Homo sapiens: one gene and its partners. The protein of the gene in region 1 purifies or fractionates together with the protein of each later gene. This does not show direct contact. Each region holds a gene or a part of one and is shown on either strand. Other genes may lie near its edges.

Region 1 (4,007 bases):
CAGGAAGGGTTCAGAGCCAGCCTTCAGGCCATGCAGGCCTCCTGGATGTGCTTACTAACTCTGGGCTCGCTGTTCTCTGAGCTGGCTGGGAGTTCCCCTCTGCACCCCCGTTTCCTCCCCTGTAAGGTGGGAATAATAGCGTATGTCTCTAGGATTAAGTGAGCCAGTCATGCATGGGCCGAGAACCAGGTTTGGCATATTGTAGCTGCTCAGTGGACGTTAGCTGTTATGATTGGACCACAACGTGCTTCCGTTTCAATTCTGTGGGCCTTTTGGAGGTCCTGCTGGATGCTAAGCACCGAAACCTCAACCCGGAACAAGACCAGAACAACCTGAGCAACAACAGGACCAGCGATGGCTCTCCCTGCTGGAGGATTCTGGAAGTCACCTGGCTGGACCAAGCCCTCTCCGTGTTCTCTGTCAGCCCACTCCCCAGAGCCGCTAGGCCTGATGTGCACAAGCAGACTAATAAAGGCTTGAGGACAAAAAGGGTTTTGAGTGATAAGTGAAAAAAGAAAGGAGATAGGGCTGGGCCAACAGGCCTTCCCTTGGTGGTGGGGAGCCCTCAGAGGTGGGAGGAACCCCAGAGGTGAAGAGAGGGACATGGTGGGGGCACAAAAAAAGCTTCCAGAGCCACAGGCCTGGGCGAGTCCTGACATGGAGCCCAGTCTCATACGGCCTCTTTCCCTAGTGGCTGGCTTTGCTCCTGGCCCTAGGTAGCCCAACAGCTGGGCAAGGGGTCCGTCTGGTCAGGGGAAAGGTGCAGGGGCAGAAGGTAGCAGAGGGAGAAAAGGACACCCTGTCTGCCTCTGGCCCCAAAGACAAGTCCGAATGGGGCCAGAGGGAAATGGCTGGGCCTTGGGGTGCCCCAGGGTCTTGGAGGGGACCGGGTGTTCAGGTTTCGCACAAGTACAGGAGGGACCGGCGACCGCCCTCCCCCCGCCCCGGGAGGCTCCGCCAGGGACAGGCGTCCCCGGGATTGGAGGTGACCCCCGTGGGTTCCGAAGCCCCGCCTCGGCCATGCACTGTCTACTAGGCGCGCTTGGGGAGCCTAGGGGCCGTCTCGGAGAAATGGGGTGGTCCCCGCCAGGCGGCGGCGGGGCGGGCCCTGGGCGCCGAAGGGGTTAAGGCACCTGGGCCACCGCCCCTGCCGGCCCCTCCTCCCGCGGCCGGGAAGAGGAAAGTCGCGGCGGGGGCGCGGCCCGGTCTCCGTCCCCACCCGCCCGCCGTCCCGCCGGCCCGAGCCGTGGCGCCCAGAGCTGCGAGCCGCTCGCCCCTCCGCCGCTCCGGCCCGGGCCGCCATGTCGCTGTGGTGAGTGGGGCTGGGGGCCGTCGGGGGCCTGGGCGGGGGCGTGGGCCCGGGGCTCCCCCTCCTCCGTGGCCACAGACGGGCGCCGGGACTCCCGGGATAGGAGATGCCCCCGCGCGCGCCGCGCCGGCCTCAGTTTCCCGGGGGCGGATGGGCGGGCGGGCGCGGCGGCGGCGGCGGGAGATGTTCGCGGTACGCGGCCCCGGACCCGTGGGGGACGTCGAGGGGTCTCGGGGCGCCGCGCTCAGCTCCCCGGCCCCGCGGCCCTGGACACCGCTCCAGGACCCTGGCGGCTGGGACCCCAGGTCTTGCCGGCAGCTGGGTCCCCTCTCCCTTCCAGACCCCTGAGGGCCCCCTGCGTCCGGGCCACTCTCCTCCTCTCGGGGCTTCCTTCCGCGGGACCTCGGACCGCCGCCCGCCCGGCCCCTCTCCGCCCCTCCCGGGCTTTCCCTACGAATGGAGCGGACCCGGCAGGTGGAGCGCCCGCAGCCCAGGGCCTCGCCGCCTTCCCGGTGCACCCCCCGACCTCCCCCGTCCCGGCCTCGGTGGGCGGCTTCCCTGGAACCCCTAGGGCTGGCAGGGCCGGATCCGGAGCCCTCCGTTTCCTCCCCGGAGAGCTGGACCTTGGGTCACACCCCCCAGCCTGCACCTAAGGTGCCCCTGTCTTCCTCCAACCACATGCCCCAGCAACCTGGGGACCCTATGGGGAAAATGTCGCTCTATGGGGCTCAGCCTGCATTCACCCTGGGGCCTGGACCTGCAACCGGACCAGCCCTCAGGGCAACCCAGGCGTCTCCACGGGCTGCCTGTCTCTCCTGGCACCCTGCTCCTCCCCCTTGGAGGTCAGCGCCATCTCTCTGCTAGGCTGGCCCTGGAAGGCCACTCTGCTGTCCCCAGAGCTCTCAGCCCCCAGGTCTCCACTGGGGAGGGTGGGGCAGGTGTCCTGGCAGCCCCCGGAGGGTGAGATGAAGAGAGGAGGTCCTTCAGGACAGGGGCTCAGGCCCCAGGGCTTGGGACGACCAGCACTCCTGGCAGAGAGCTCTAATTTCTGCTTCCGAAATGGGTGTGGACCGGGGTTGGGGTGGGGGGGTCTCTGGGCAAGAAGGGTCCCTCAAGGGCTGGAGCTGCAAATGTGCCCCCTCCCAGGGAGTAGAGCTGTAGCCTCATGTCTTCTAATGGGGTGTTATGAGCTGGGGATGTTAAGGTAGGGGTGAGGGGCAGTGCCATGCTAGAGGTGCTCACTGCATCCTTGGGCCTCCATCAACCATGAGGGCTGCTCTTTGTTGGGTGAGACAGACTGGAGAAGGGGGAGGAGGGCCAGTCTTCCTCAGGTCCCAAGCTCGAGCCACTCTCCAATGTGCCCCACATGTGATGGAGCTCCCGGGCGGCACAGAGGATCAGAGGGTGCCCTCTCAATGACTCTGGCTCTGAGTCACCTAATGATACCGATACCTACTGCTGTGGGTAGGTACACCGCAGGGAAATGAAAGGCATTGGGGTTCCAGGCGTGGGGAACAGGGCAGAGGTTTCCACCTGAGGCCCTCCTGTTAAGGTGACAGCATTCCCCTAACTGTGCACCCGCTGCCTGGTACTTTATATAGCACTCCAATCCTGTGTTTTAGCCCCATTTGGGGGAAGAAGAAATCGTGGCTCAGAGTGGTTGTAAACCACTCATTCAGCTTGTAAGCGTCAGGGCCTGATTCCACAGTGCTCCTTGAGGAGAGGGCAGGGTGGGAGAAAGAAAGGGCAGGGTGGGAGAGGAAGCGGGACCCTACCCTGACAGCTTAGGGACTCCGGGACTGAGCCTGTGCCCAGGTCCACTTGCCCGTCTGGGACCACCCAGCCTCCCAAGGGGGGCGCCAGGAGAGCCCTGGGCTCATCTTTTCTCTCTCCTCTGTACTGTCCGCTCTCCCCCACAGGAAGAAAACCGTCTACCGGAGTCTGTGCCTGGCCCTGGCCCTGCTCGTGGCCGTGACGGTGTTCCAACGCAGTCTCACCCCTGGTCAGTTTCTGCAGGAGCCTCCGCCACCCACCCTGGAGCCACAGAAGGCCCAGAAGCCAAATGGACAGCTGGTGAACCCCAACAACTTCTGGAAGAACCCGAAAGATGTGGCTGCGCCCACGCCCATGGCCTCTCAGGGGCCCCAGGCCTGGGACGTGACCACCACTAACTGCTCAGCCAATATCAACTTGACCCACCAGCCCTGGTTCCAGGTCCTGGAGCCGCAGTTCCGGCAGTTTCTCTTCTACCGCCACTGCCGCTACTTCCCCATGCTGCTGAACCACCCGGAGAAGTGCAGGGGCGATGTCTACCTGCTGGTGGTTGTCAAGTCGGTCATCACGCAGCACGACCGCCGCGAGGCCATCCGCCAGACCTGGGGCCGCGAGCGGCAGTCCGCGGGTGGGGGCCGAGGCGCCGTGCGCACCCTCTTCCTGCTGGGCACGGCCTCCAAGCAGGAGGAGCGCACGCACTACCAGCAGCTGCTGGCCTACGAAGACCGCCTCTACGGCGACATCCTGCAGTGGGGCTTTCTCGACACCTTCTTCAACCTGACCCTCAAGGAGATCCACTTCCTCAAGTGGCTGGACATCTACTGCCCCCACGTCCCCTTCATTTTCAAAGGCGACGATGACGTCTTCGTCAACCCCACCAACCTGCTAGAATTTCTGGCTGACCGGCAGCCACAGGAAAACCTGT
Region 2 (3,500 bases), on another chromosome or scaffold:
AAAGCTTATGTGGGCTGTATTACAAATTCTACTTTCACTACAAACTTAGCATTCATCCATTACCAATAAATGTATTATTTAAGATAGGCCCTCGAATGCTGGGGAAAGACCACTGTGATGGGAATAATGCTTCTTAAGTGAATCATGATTTGAACCCAGAGGAAGTGTCTCCTTGGGATTTAGCCCAACACACTCACCTCCACTGGGCTGGATTTTCTCAATATACCTCTTGGCATCTGCAACCTGTGTTTTTGTAGCTGAAATTAAATCATTTCTCCAAGTTCGAATGTTCTGGTTGAAATCAATCACAGAGAAATGGTCTTCTGCTCTGAGGTCATCCAATATGGTCTTCATTGCTTCCACAGTCTATTTCAATAGAGAATAAAGACAGGTCCCATTACAGAAAATCTGAGCCTCAGAGGAACTAGGAAGACCAATCATTGATCCTGGTCATCTTTCAAGTTCTTCTCAAGCTAAACTTCTTCCAGAAAACCTCTTGAGCCCACCTCAGTCAATGCAGACCTGCCCCTTATTTATTCTGGGCATGTACTGTTGGCTTTTTGATAATTTTACTATCTATTTTGCTATGCACAACCAGTTTGACTAGTCTTTATGTTAAGGATCACAAACTTCGAGTGCCACCTTTATGATGCCTGAAAATAAAATACATTTCTCAAGTCCATCTACTCACCCAGTCTCTTAAACTATTTCCTCATCTTTCTCTTTAAACCACCACCATCACCCTCTTTCTCTAGCTTACGTGTGATGATTTTGATTCCAACTCCACTGAGAAACTGCAGCAGACAGAAGAACATTCCCACAGACTCCCACTACCATAAAATCCCAACCATCAATATTTGTACCCATACATTTTTCTTTCCTACCTGATAATAAAGAACAACTAGCAGTATTTCTACCTAATGCAAACCCATCTATTCATGAACTATTTCATTCCCTCTCTTTGACTAAAGATCATGGCTCCAGCAATTGTCCTTTGCCTCTTCAATTTCCCTATTCTATTGGTACATTTCCATCAACAAAAACATGTTATTTCTCACCCTTCTACAAACCTCATGTGCATCCACTTTCTTCATTTCTCAGCTTTCTTCTGCAATAAAATTCCTTGAGGAATTGTCTAAACACACTGTCTCCAAATCTTCTCTTCCTATTCTCTCATAAGCCCAATCCTTTCGGGTTTTCATCCCTGTCACTCTACTGAAACTGCCCTTGTCAAGGTCACCAATGATGCTAATGTCACTAAATCCAAAGGTCCATCTTCATTTCTCATGCACCGGCAAGTGCTCTCATCTCCCTCCTGAACACAAATTCCTCAATTGTCTTCCAGGGCCTCATTCTCTCTTGATTTTTCTCCCCCACTTACTAATTGTTTTTATTAGTCTCTATCACCAATTATCCTCTTCTTCCCAAATTCCCAATATTGGAATGCTCTGTTGTCTGATCTTGGCTCCCTTGTCCATCTACTCCTCGGCATTCTCACCTAGTCCCAATGCTGACAGTACCTTCTATATGCTGGGGAGTCCTAACTGTGTGTCTCCACATCTCACTTTTGAACACCACGCTTCCATGGCCAACGTGGGTACTTAATAGAAATCTCAGACTTTGCATCCAAAACCAAACTGGGACATTCCCTGCAATGTCTGATTACATTTCTGTCTTTGTCAACTCATGGATGGCCACTTCATCCTTCTAGTCACTCAGGCTAAGTCCTGGGGCATCTTTCACTTCTCTTTTCTTCCCTTGCCTCACAGCTAGCCCTTCAGGATATACTGTTTACTCTACCTTCAAAACAGATTCCAGAATCCAGCTCTGATCATGACTGCACAGGTGTTCCATGAGCCACCTTGCCTCTCACTTCTCAGATCTCATCTCCCACTGCCCCTCTCTACTGGCATCTCTCTCTGTTCTTTGCACACTTTCGACTTAGAACTGTTGCATGAGCTGTTCATTGCATTTAATTCCCTTAGATATCTGCACAACTCTCCCTTCACCTTCTCAGGGTCTCCTCAGAGGTCTTCTCCAGGAAACCACCTATTTAGATGACAAGCCTATTTAAAATTGCATACCCCTGCAATTGCCACTCTTGGTTTTTAACATATGCTTCTTTTATTTTTTAAAAAAACTTTTATCAAAATGCTGCCATTGAACGTACTTGTACATTTGTACTTGCATGTGTATTGTTTATTCTCTGTCCCCTATCCCTCAGATGTAAGTTTCATAAGCACACAGAGGGTAGGCATCCGTTTTTTTTCTGTTTTTTGTTTGGTTTCTGTTTTTATGCTTTGGGTCTGTTTTGCTCATAGATGAACTAAGTGTATGACACATAGTAGGTGCTTCGTAAATATTTGTTAAATGAATGAGTGATGGAAGGAAGGAAGCAGTGAATAAACTGTTGTATTAGAGCAATGTTTCTCAACCAGAGGCAATTATTCCCCCCAGCGGACATTTGGCAATGTCTGACGTTATATTTGATTGTTATGATGCAGGGGAGGTTGTGCTACCAAAATTTAGCAAATAGACCATAGACCATGCTGCTAAGTATCCTGCAATGCACCAGACAGCCCTCCTACAACAAGGAATGACCCCATCCAAAATATCAATAGTCCCACTGCTGAGAAACCCTGCCTGGGAGTACAGACCCAGGCAGGCAGGGTCTGTGAAAGACAGGGTCTTCTTTTTCCTCTTCTTCGTCTTCGTCTTCTTCCTCTTCTTTTTTTTTTTTTTTTTGAGATGGAGTTTCGCTCTTGTTGCCCAGGCTGGAGTGCAATGGCGCGATCTCTGCTCGCTGCAACTCCCGCTTCCTGGGTTCAAGCAATTCTCCTGCCTCAGCCTCCCGAGTAGCTGGGATTACAGGCATGCACCACCACGCCTGGCTAATTTTGTATTTTTAGTAGAGACAGGGTTTCTCCATGTTGGTCAGGCTGGTCTCAAACTCCCAACCTCAGGTGATCCACCTGCCTTGGCCTCCCAAAGTACTGGGATTACAGGCGTGAGCCACTGTGCCTGGCTGACAGGGACTTCTTTTAGGTTCCTTACAGATCTTAGGGTAGTAGTGAACTCTTGGGTGGTCAAAAATAGTTGCCCTATGACTGGTTAGTTGGTTGTTCAACTTGGTTGAATGGATGGATGGATTGATGGGTAAGTTAAATCATTTCCTTGTTTGGTCTTTAGTATTGCATCTGTACATCTCACTTATCACTAAGTAAGCCTATATTGAGCTCTGAGCTGGAAAACATAAGATGGATAGCTGCTCTCAAGCAATTACCATATAATTAGAAATAATATGTATATATTGAATCAATAGTCATATGTGGACAATGACAAGATATTATAATAAAACATGTGGAAGAGCAAAAAGAATGTGACTGATCCTTGAAAGAAGAGGTTATATAGAGATTCTGTTTTTCAAAGAGGTGAGTTTTGAGACAGTTTTTCAAGGAAATATTGGATAGAGAGTGGAAAAGAGAAAGAGAAGGAAGAGG
Region 3 (3,500 bases), on another chromosome or scaffold:
TGTACTAAGAAAAATTATATAACTTAGGGAAGATCCAGTTTCTGATTTTAATTAATTATACATATAAATGGTACTACTTTAATAATTGTTTTTTCTCCTTTCAGGGCAATTCCACATCCTCGTGGTCATGCACATTTGGCAGCACTTGTCAACCATGAATGTAAGCAGATTCTGACTTTTTTTCAGTAAAGATGTACTTGAAAAAATATTATTTTTAAAAGTGCAGATATAGTGTAGTTGAAAGTGAGCTGTTTTGAAAACATATTCATCCAAAGGAAAAAATAAATTTTTAAATTGATTTACTTTAATCTGCATTTGTATTTGGTCATGGCTCTGAGTTGCTGAGGTTAGGGAGGAAAGCCTAGTGTACTTTCTATAACTTTGTACACATTTCTGCTAATTTTTAGGGATAAAGAAAATAATATATTTGCAGTTTATTTCAATTTGCAAATTGAAATATGGATGTATAGACATGTATAAAGTATTCAGGTTAGTTTGGTATCATGATTGTCTTAAGACTTAAGTTCTTAAAGTCTGCTTTAGAGGACAAAACAAGTAATGGATTCCACAGAAAATTAGTTTGGTCACATTTAGCAATAGTGTATTAAAAATATATCTGATCAGTTTTATTATATGGCCACATGGCCATCATTCCAATTCTAACAATACCGTCCTGTTAACTATATGATGATTTGGAAAAGGAAAGATGTATATTTTTGGCTTTCATTATATATTAATATTTTCTAGACGTTAAATTGTATATAATTATTAAATTTGAGATATAGCATTTTGTCAGAATTTATTTTATACATTTAATTCGCATATATTTACATTTATTTTTCTCAAAGTATTGTGGCTTAAAATACTGTATTATTATCCTTGAAGATTTTAAACATTTTCATTTGAGAATAGATAAGGATGTAAACCAGTCTGTACCAAGTAATTTTGAATAATATAATTTCTCTGCTAAGTTGTTTTTATTTTTTGCCTTTTAGCTTACAATTTTTCTCATAGAATAGATCATTTGTCTTTTGGAGAGCTTGTTCCAGCAATTATTAATCCTTTAGATGGAACTGAAAAAATTGCTATAGATCGTAAGTATTTAATAATTATTGTTGGATTTTACATGTAGAAAATTTTGCTTATAACCTGAATATTAATACATTTTTAATGTCTTCCTAACTACTGTGTAAAGATAATCTTTAAGTGGTTGGTGATTGAGATGTATGTGAAGAGAATTTGTCCTAGTAGTGGATGAAATTTGAATATTCAAAAATGAGCCATAGAACAGAATAAAGAAATTCAAGTTAAAAGATGAAGGAATTAAAAGGCAGAAGGAGTTCAATTTAAACAGTAGAAATAGATGAAAGGTTAATACATTAACAGGGCATAACTGCACTTTTTTGTATTCACCAAAGAATAAGAATGAAAAAAAGGTTCAACATTATGAGAAGAATTTTCTTCTTTGTATAATATAGGTTCAAAGTTTTAAAATGCATATATATCATTTCAGAAACCTCTCTGGAGAATTTTACAAACACCAGAAACCTAGTTATTCTGGAATGGTTTGGTTATTAACATAGAAGGAGTACATTATAGCACAGATAACCTTTTTAAAATGTTCTATTTAACCTTCTGCTCCATTTAAAGTATCAAGTCTATCCAAATATGGAAAGATCATTTTCTTAGTTTTTTAGAAAGTAGTCTGTTCTCATGTTTTCTGCAGGTTTTTGATTGCCTCTTTCTAAAATAGTCATATTATATACCATGTTCCAGCTATTGGACATTTTAAGGACTTCTGAAGCTTGTTCAGCTAGTAGGAATTCTATCCTTTGTAAAATTGTAATTAAGGATTTAGTTTTTTATTAATTTAAGTAGATTTATTAATATCCTATTCAGATTTATTCATATTCTTTACTTTTTAGCAGTGTTATAATCATATATTAAAGATGTTTAGAATTTAGAATACTGATTTACATTCATGAATATTTTATGTTCATGTGGGAATGTTTCACTTCAGGAAACCTGAGTGTACTAAATTTAGAAATGTGTGGATGGAAACATTTTGAGATTTATAAGCTTTAGTCAGTATAATCTAATCTGTAATCTAAGCATATGTTAATTCTCCTCTGAAATGCATTGCATGTTACCTGAGAGATGCTCATTTGGAAACATACTGGTCGATGCTTTGTTTCAAGATGCTAAAATGAACTACAAATTTTTGCACAGAAGCTCTTCTAAATATAAACAGGTCAATTTTCAAAAAGCTGTTTTTAAGTGTACTTCTTTATAAATTCAGAGAAACTAAGAGGTATTTAGAGTCATATTCTGAAATGCCGTTAGGTGAGTATCATCAGGTTTTTCAAAGCTTTAAAGCAGTTTGTATACTTTTCTCCTTCGTAATATATGTTTTTTTCAGCCTCTTTTTCCAAAAAGAAAAAAATCAACATTACATATCTGCTATGTCAGGTAGCTATCCCTTTCCTGATGTTCTCCAGAAGTATTGCAGGAGTTACTTAACAATTAACATCTTTAATGCAGTACAGATTTGGATAAACAAGGTAGACATAGTCCCTGCCCTTCATAGAGCGCACGTTCCTATAGGGAATTAGATCTTTAGGTAATAAGTGTTAGGGCAAACGGCTCTGAACAAAATAAAGGAGATTGCCTATGATATGAGAAAGGGCATGGAAGAGGCTGTGGTATTTGAAAAAAACTTGAGTGAAGTAAATAAGTGAGCTAAGCGATTATCTTTTTGAGAGCATTGCAGGCAGCTTTATTATTAATGAAGCCGGTAGAAATAAAACAACCTATATGTGCTGCCACAAACTGGACAACCTAACTCCATACTCCTCCTACCCTGCTGACTTCTCAAATGGCAGGGATGGCTCACTTTCCTAATGGTAGAAGGTGGTTATGTATGTCTTGAAGACAGAGCTGTTTAAGAGAGAGAATGCCTATACTATCTAATTGAGTGGCTTAGCCACACATGATTACTTTTTGCAGATGAATCATTCCTTCCATGAGTGAGAGAGAAGTGGAGAGGAAGGTCAAAGCTTTTACTCTTTTATGTACAAAGGGGTGCAAGCTTCTATTTAAATCTGGGAGAATTTTTTCTGCTTAAATTTAAGACCATATTCCCCTTGAGTGGAACCGCCTGGGTTCAAGTTCTCACTCTGCCACTTAATAACTTGGACTTTGGCCTGTTTCTTAACATCCCTGTACTTGAGTTGCTTCATCTCTAACAAAAGGATAATAAAAACATTTACTTGCTTCTCTAGTTGAATCTATGGATAGGTGTATCTAATTATACTTTTTCTAGAGAATTCTCTAGACCCGGAGAATTAACATGTTTTATATTATGTGAATGGGTAATTGTTTACAGTTAATTAGTAATTGGTAATATTCTGGTATTTAAAACTTGTGTCAAACTTAGAGATGCCTAATGACTGTATAAAAATGATCCTTTTGATTATACAGTAACCCCAGGCCATCATTGA
Region 4 (3,500 bases), on another chromosome or scaffold:
ATTCTGTGAAGCATGTGAAATAGAAAGATTGCTATGATTGGAAATGAAAAGTCACTTTGGAATGGGGGTGGATTATCTTGCCTATTTCTTTTTTATCTTTGGCCTTTTGTGAGGTCAGTATTTGCAAGAGTTCTGTGACTTGAACCCAGACTTTTGCCCAGCTCTCATATGATAGAAGTGAGCTGTTGCTAGTTGATTGGTGGATTCTAGCCCAGTTCAGCCCAGTGATTTGATTTATGGGAAGATATGTGGTGAAATGGAATCTTTAGCATTAGAAACTTTCTGTTATGTAACAGATTTTTACCATCTGCTTCATTTCCCTCAACTCACTACCATTTCAGATCCAGAAAAAAAGTTCTACCTACCCCTACTCTCAGTAATAATTTACATTATATTGAAGCTCAGTTCCCTGTTCTCTTTTTTAAAAAAATGCATTTTGCATTGTAATATAGGAAAGGTACTCTACTTTTTTATTTCAGAATTATTTCTACATGCACTTCTTTTTATCAAGTTTGCTTTTCTGCCCAAATAAGGAATAGTGTGGTTTTGTCTAACGATGTGAAATCACCAATAAACACTGGCTAGATTGGTTTCAGGAGCGTGATGCGTGGTTTGTTGTTCTGATTGGGGGTGGTTTTATTGTGAAGCTAATGATCCCTATACCTTAAAGCCCCTCACTTACATGGGCTTTTTTTCTATTTGTAATGCTGAATCTTGTTTTTAAAAGAAGGCTTTCCAAATTCTGTTAGCTTCAGACATCACAAAAGCTGGTTCTGAGGGGTTCTGTGTAAGAGCCTTGGAGATCTAGGAGTTGGCTTTAAAGACAATGTTGGATGAGCAGGGCAGATAGCTTTTTTTTTTTTTTTTTTTTTTTGAGATGGAGTCTCGCTCTGTCACCCAGGCTAGAGTGCAGTGGCACGATCTCAGCTCACCGAAACCTCCGCCTCCCAGGTTCAAGCGATTCTCCTGCCTCAGCCTCCTGAGTAGCTGGGATTACAGGCTCCCACCACCATGCCTGGCTAATTTTTGTATTTTTAGTAGAAATGGGGTTTCACCATGTTGGCCAGGCTGGTCTCGAATTCCTGATCTCAGGTGATCTGCCCACCTCAGCCTCCCAAAGTGCTGGCATAACAGGCGTGAGCCACTGCGCCCAGCCAAGTGCTCAGAAGTATTTTAATCAACTCTTAGTCTTCTTTATTTTCTGAACTTTTAAGCCTTTTTCCTCAGAGTCTTCTACTATTTACTTTCCCAATGATTATTCTGTTAACAGCGGCAGCACAGTTCTGCTATGTGTATGATCTCTGTGAGTGTAGATACCCTTCACTCTCCTTGTTTTACAGATGAGGAAACAGTCTGAGAGAAGTTTATTAACTTGCCTAAGGTCACACAGCATAGAAAGCAATAGAGCTGAGATTCAAACCTTGCTATGTTTCATGGAACACCTTTACTTGTTTCATCTTCCTGATGTCAGCCAGCCAGATATCTTGGAATGAGAATCTGAAAAAATTCCAACACAAAATACTAATGTCCTAGGGGCCAAGAATTATTATTATTATTTTTTAAAAATATAATTTATTTTTTAAACTTGGTGGTAGGTACACAGGCATTTGTTTTATTGTTATTCTTTATACCCTATACATATTTTATTATCATTCTTTTTATGTTTATAAAATATTTAGGCCAGGCGCGGTGGCTCACGTCTGTAATCCCAGCACTTTGGGAGGCTGAGGCAGGCGGATCACGAGGTCAGGAGATCGAGACCATCCTGGCTAACACGGTGAAACCCCGTCTCTACTAAAAATACAAAAAATTAGCCAGGCGTGGTGGCGGGTGCCTGTAGTCCCAGCTACTTGGGAGGCTGAGGCAGGAGAATGGCATGAACCTGGGAGGCGAAGCGTGCAGTGAGCTGAGATCATGCCACTGCACTCTAGCCTAGGAGACAGAGCGAGACTCCATCTCAAAAAAAGAAAAAAGAAAAAAAAAGATATATGTATATATATAAAATATTGTAGAAAAGAATAATTATTGTTTTTATGAATTACATTTTTAATGCAATTCTAGCAATATAAATACAAAACAAAAAGCAAAACCAAAAAGCCCAATCAAAAATATCACCACCCAGGCGAGGTGCAGTGGCTCATGCCTGTAATCCCAGCACTTTGGGAGGCTGAGGCAGGAGAATTGGTTGAATTTGGGAGGCAGAGGTTGCAGTGAGCTGAGATCGTGCCACTGCGCTCCAGTCTGGGTGACAGAATAAGACTCCGTCTCAAAAAAAAAAAAAAATCACCTCCCAGAAACTCATTAAATGAGAAATCATTCCACAATATTCTGGATGCATCTATACAGAAAGATAGAAAAGAAGTGATTAAGATTGTCTCAGTTATCTAGTGTGCGTTAACAAGCTACCCCAAAACTTAATAGCATATAACAAAAAACCAATTATTTATTCAGGGCTACAAGCTCTAATGCTTGAAAAAAGATTGCTACCTTAGCCAGTTTCAGAGCTGCCCCCACACGTGGGGACATCTTTTAGTCATCTAATTTCAGTGGCTTCTAGGCAAGTGAACCAGCTATTGTCTCAAGCACATCAGTAAATCTGTCAATATTGCTTCACTCATTGGTTAGGACTGGTAGTCCCATGTGCTTAGCACATGTAGGCACTTAATGAAGATTCATGAACAAATGAAGTAAGTGAGGGCGCCTTTCATGGACCTGACTGCTTAGCACTGATTTCTCTTTTTGCCTGACTTAGGTATTTGGCTCGAGTAGGGGAGCTTGAAGCTACTGACACTGAAGACCCAAATCTGAATTATGGACTTGTTGTTGACTGTGGCAGCAGTGGTTCCCGGATTTTTGTTTATTTCTGGCCAAGACATAATGGGAACCCCCATGACTTGCTGGACATCAAACAGATGAGAGACCGCAACAGCCAACCAGTGGTTAAAAAAATCAAGCCAGGTACTAATCAGAATATATTTTGTTGTCAGTCTCTTTTAAGGCATGAAAGAGGAGACAAAAGAAGCAGAAAGCAAGCTACCCCTTTCTTCTTGAGAGTCTGGGTAATGGGAGGGATATCTCTTTCATTGTCACCCCCTACCTCTCAAATAAATAAATGTTTAGGACCTTGAGGAGAACTTTATAGGGTATCAGTTTCCTGAGTCTTATGTGAGCCGCTTTTTAAAGAAAGTTTTGTCTGTTTGTTTGTTTTAACTTAAGGAATCTCTGCAATGGCAGACACTCCAGAACATGCCAGTGATTACCTTCGTCCTCTGCTGAGCTTTGCTGCTGCTCATGTGCCTGTGAAGAAGCACAAGGAGACCCCTCTTTACATCCTCTGCACAGCAGGCATGAGGCTTCTCCCTGAGAGGTGAGATGCAGGGTACAGGAAACACAGGAAAACGGTGGCACAAGAGATGAAAGGCCAGTTTCATGCACTGTCCTCTGTGGTTCCCTGGTCTATACCCCTAAACCCAATTATGACACAATCATTCATTCCCAAC

The links. Proteins that work in one complex are often made in the same cells at the same time.
Region 2: the proteins of B3GNT7 (region 1) and ITIH2 purify together in Homo sapiens (affinity purification with mass spectrometry; one large-scale study listed by BioGRID and IntAct). This does not show direct contact.
Region 3: the proteins of B3GNT7 (region 1) and ERGIC2 purify together in Homo sapiens (affinity purification with mass spectrometry; one large-scale study listed by BioGRID and IntAct). This does not show direct contact.
Region 4: the proteins of B3GNT7 (region 1) and ENTPD7 purify together in Homo sapiens (affinity purification with mass spectrometry; one large-scale study listed by BioGRID and IntAct). This does not show direct contact.

The regions. Positions count from the first base shown.
Region 1 is NC_000002.12:231,394,503-231,398,509, forward strand, and holds the start of B3GNT7 (UDP-GlcNAc:betaGal beta-1,3-N-acetylglucosaminyltransferase 7), read left to right. Parts: upstream 1-1,207; 5' UTR 1,208-1,301; coding exon 1,302-1,312; intron 1,313-3,228; coding exon 3,229-4,007.
Region 2 is NC_000010.11:7,723,816-7,727,315, reverse strand, and holds part of ITIH2 (inter-alpha-trypsin inhibitor heavy chain H2 precursor), read right to left. Parts: intron 367-3,500; coding exon 198-366; intron 1-197. UniProt on the Homo sapiens protein: May act as a carrier of hyaluronan in serum or as a binding protein between hyaluronan and other matrix protein, including those on cell surfaces in tissues to regulate the localization, synthesis and degradation of hyaluronan which are essential to cells undergoing biological processes.
Region 3 is NC_000012.12:29,346,673-29,350,172, reverse strand, and holds part of ERGIC2 (endoplasmic reticulum-Golgi intermediate compartment protein 2), read left to right. Parts: intron 1-104; coding exon 105-160; intron 161-995; coding exon 996-1,094; intron 1,095-3,500. UniProt on the Homo sapiens protein: Possible role in transport between endoplasmic reticulum and Golgi.
Region 4 is NC_000010.11:99,676,509-99,680,008, forward strand, and holds part of ENTPD7 (ectonucleoside triphosphate diphosphohydrolase 7), read left to right. Parts: intron 1-2,752; coding exon 2,753-2,958; intron 2,959-3,216; coding exon 3,217-3,367; intron 3,368-3,500. UniProt on the Homo sapiens protein: Catalyzes the hydrolysis of nucleoside triphosphates and diphosphates in a calcium- or magnesium-dependent manner. Preferentially hydrolyzes nucleoside 5'-triphosphates, with substrate preference for UTP > GTP > CTP.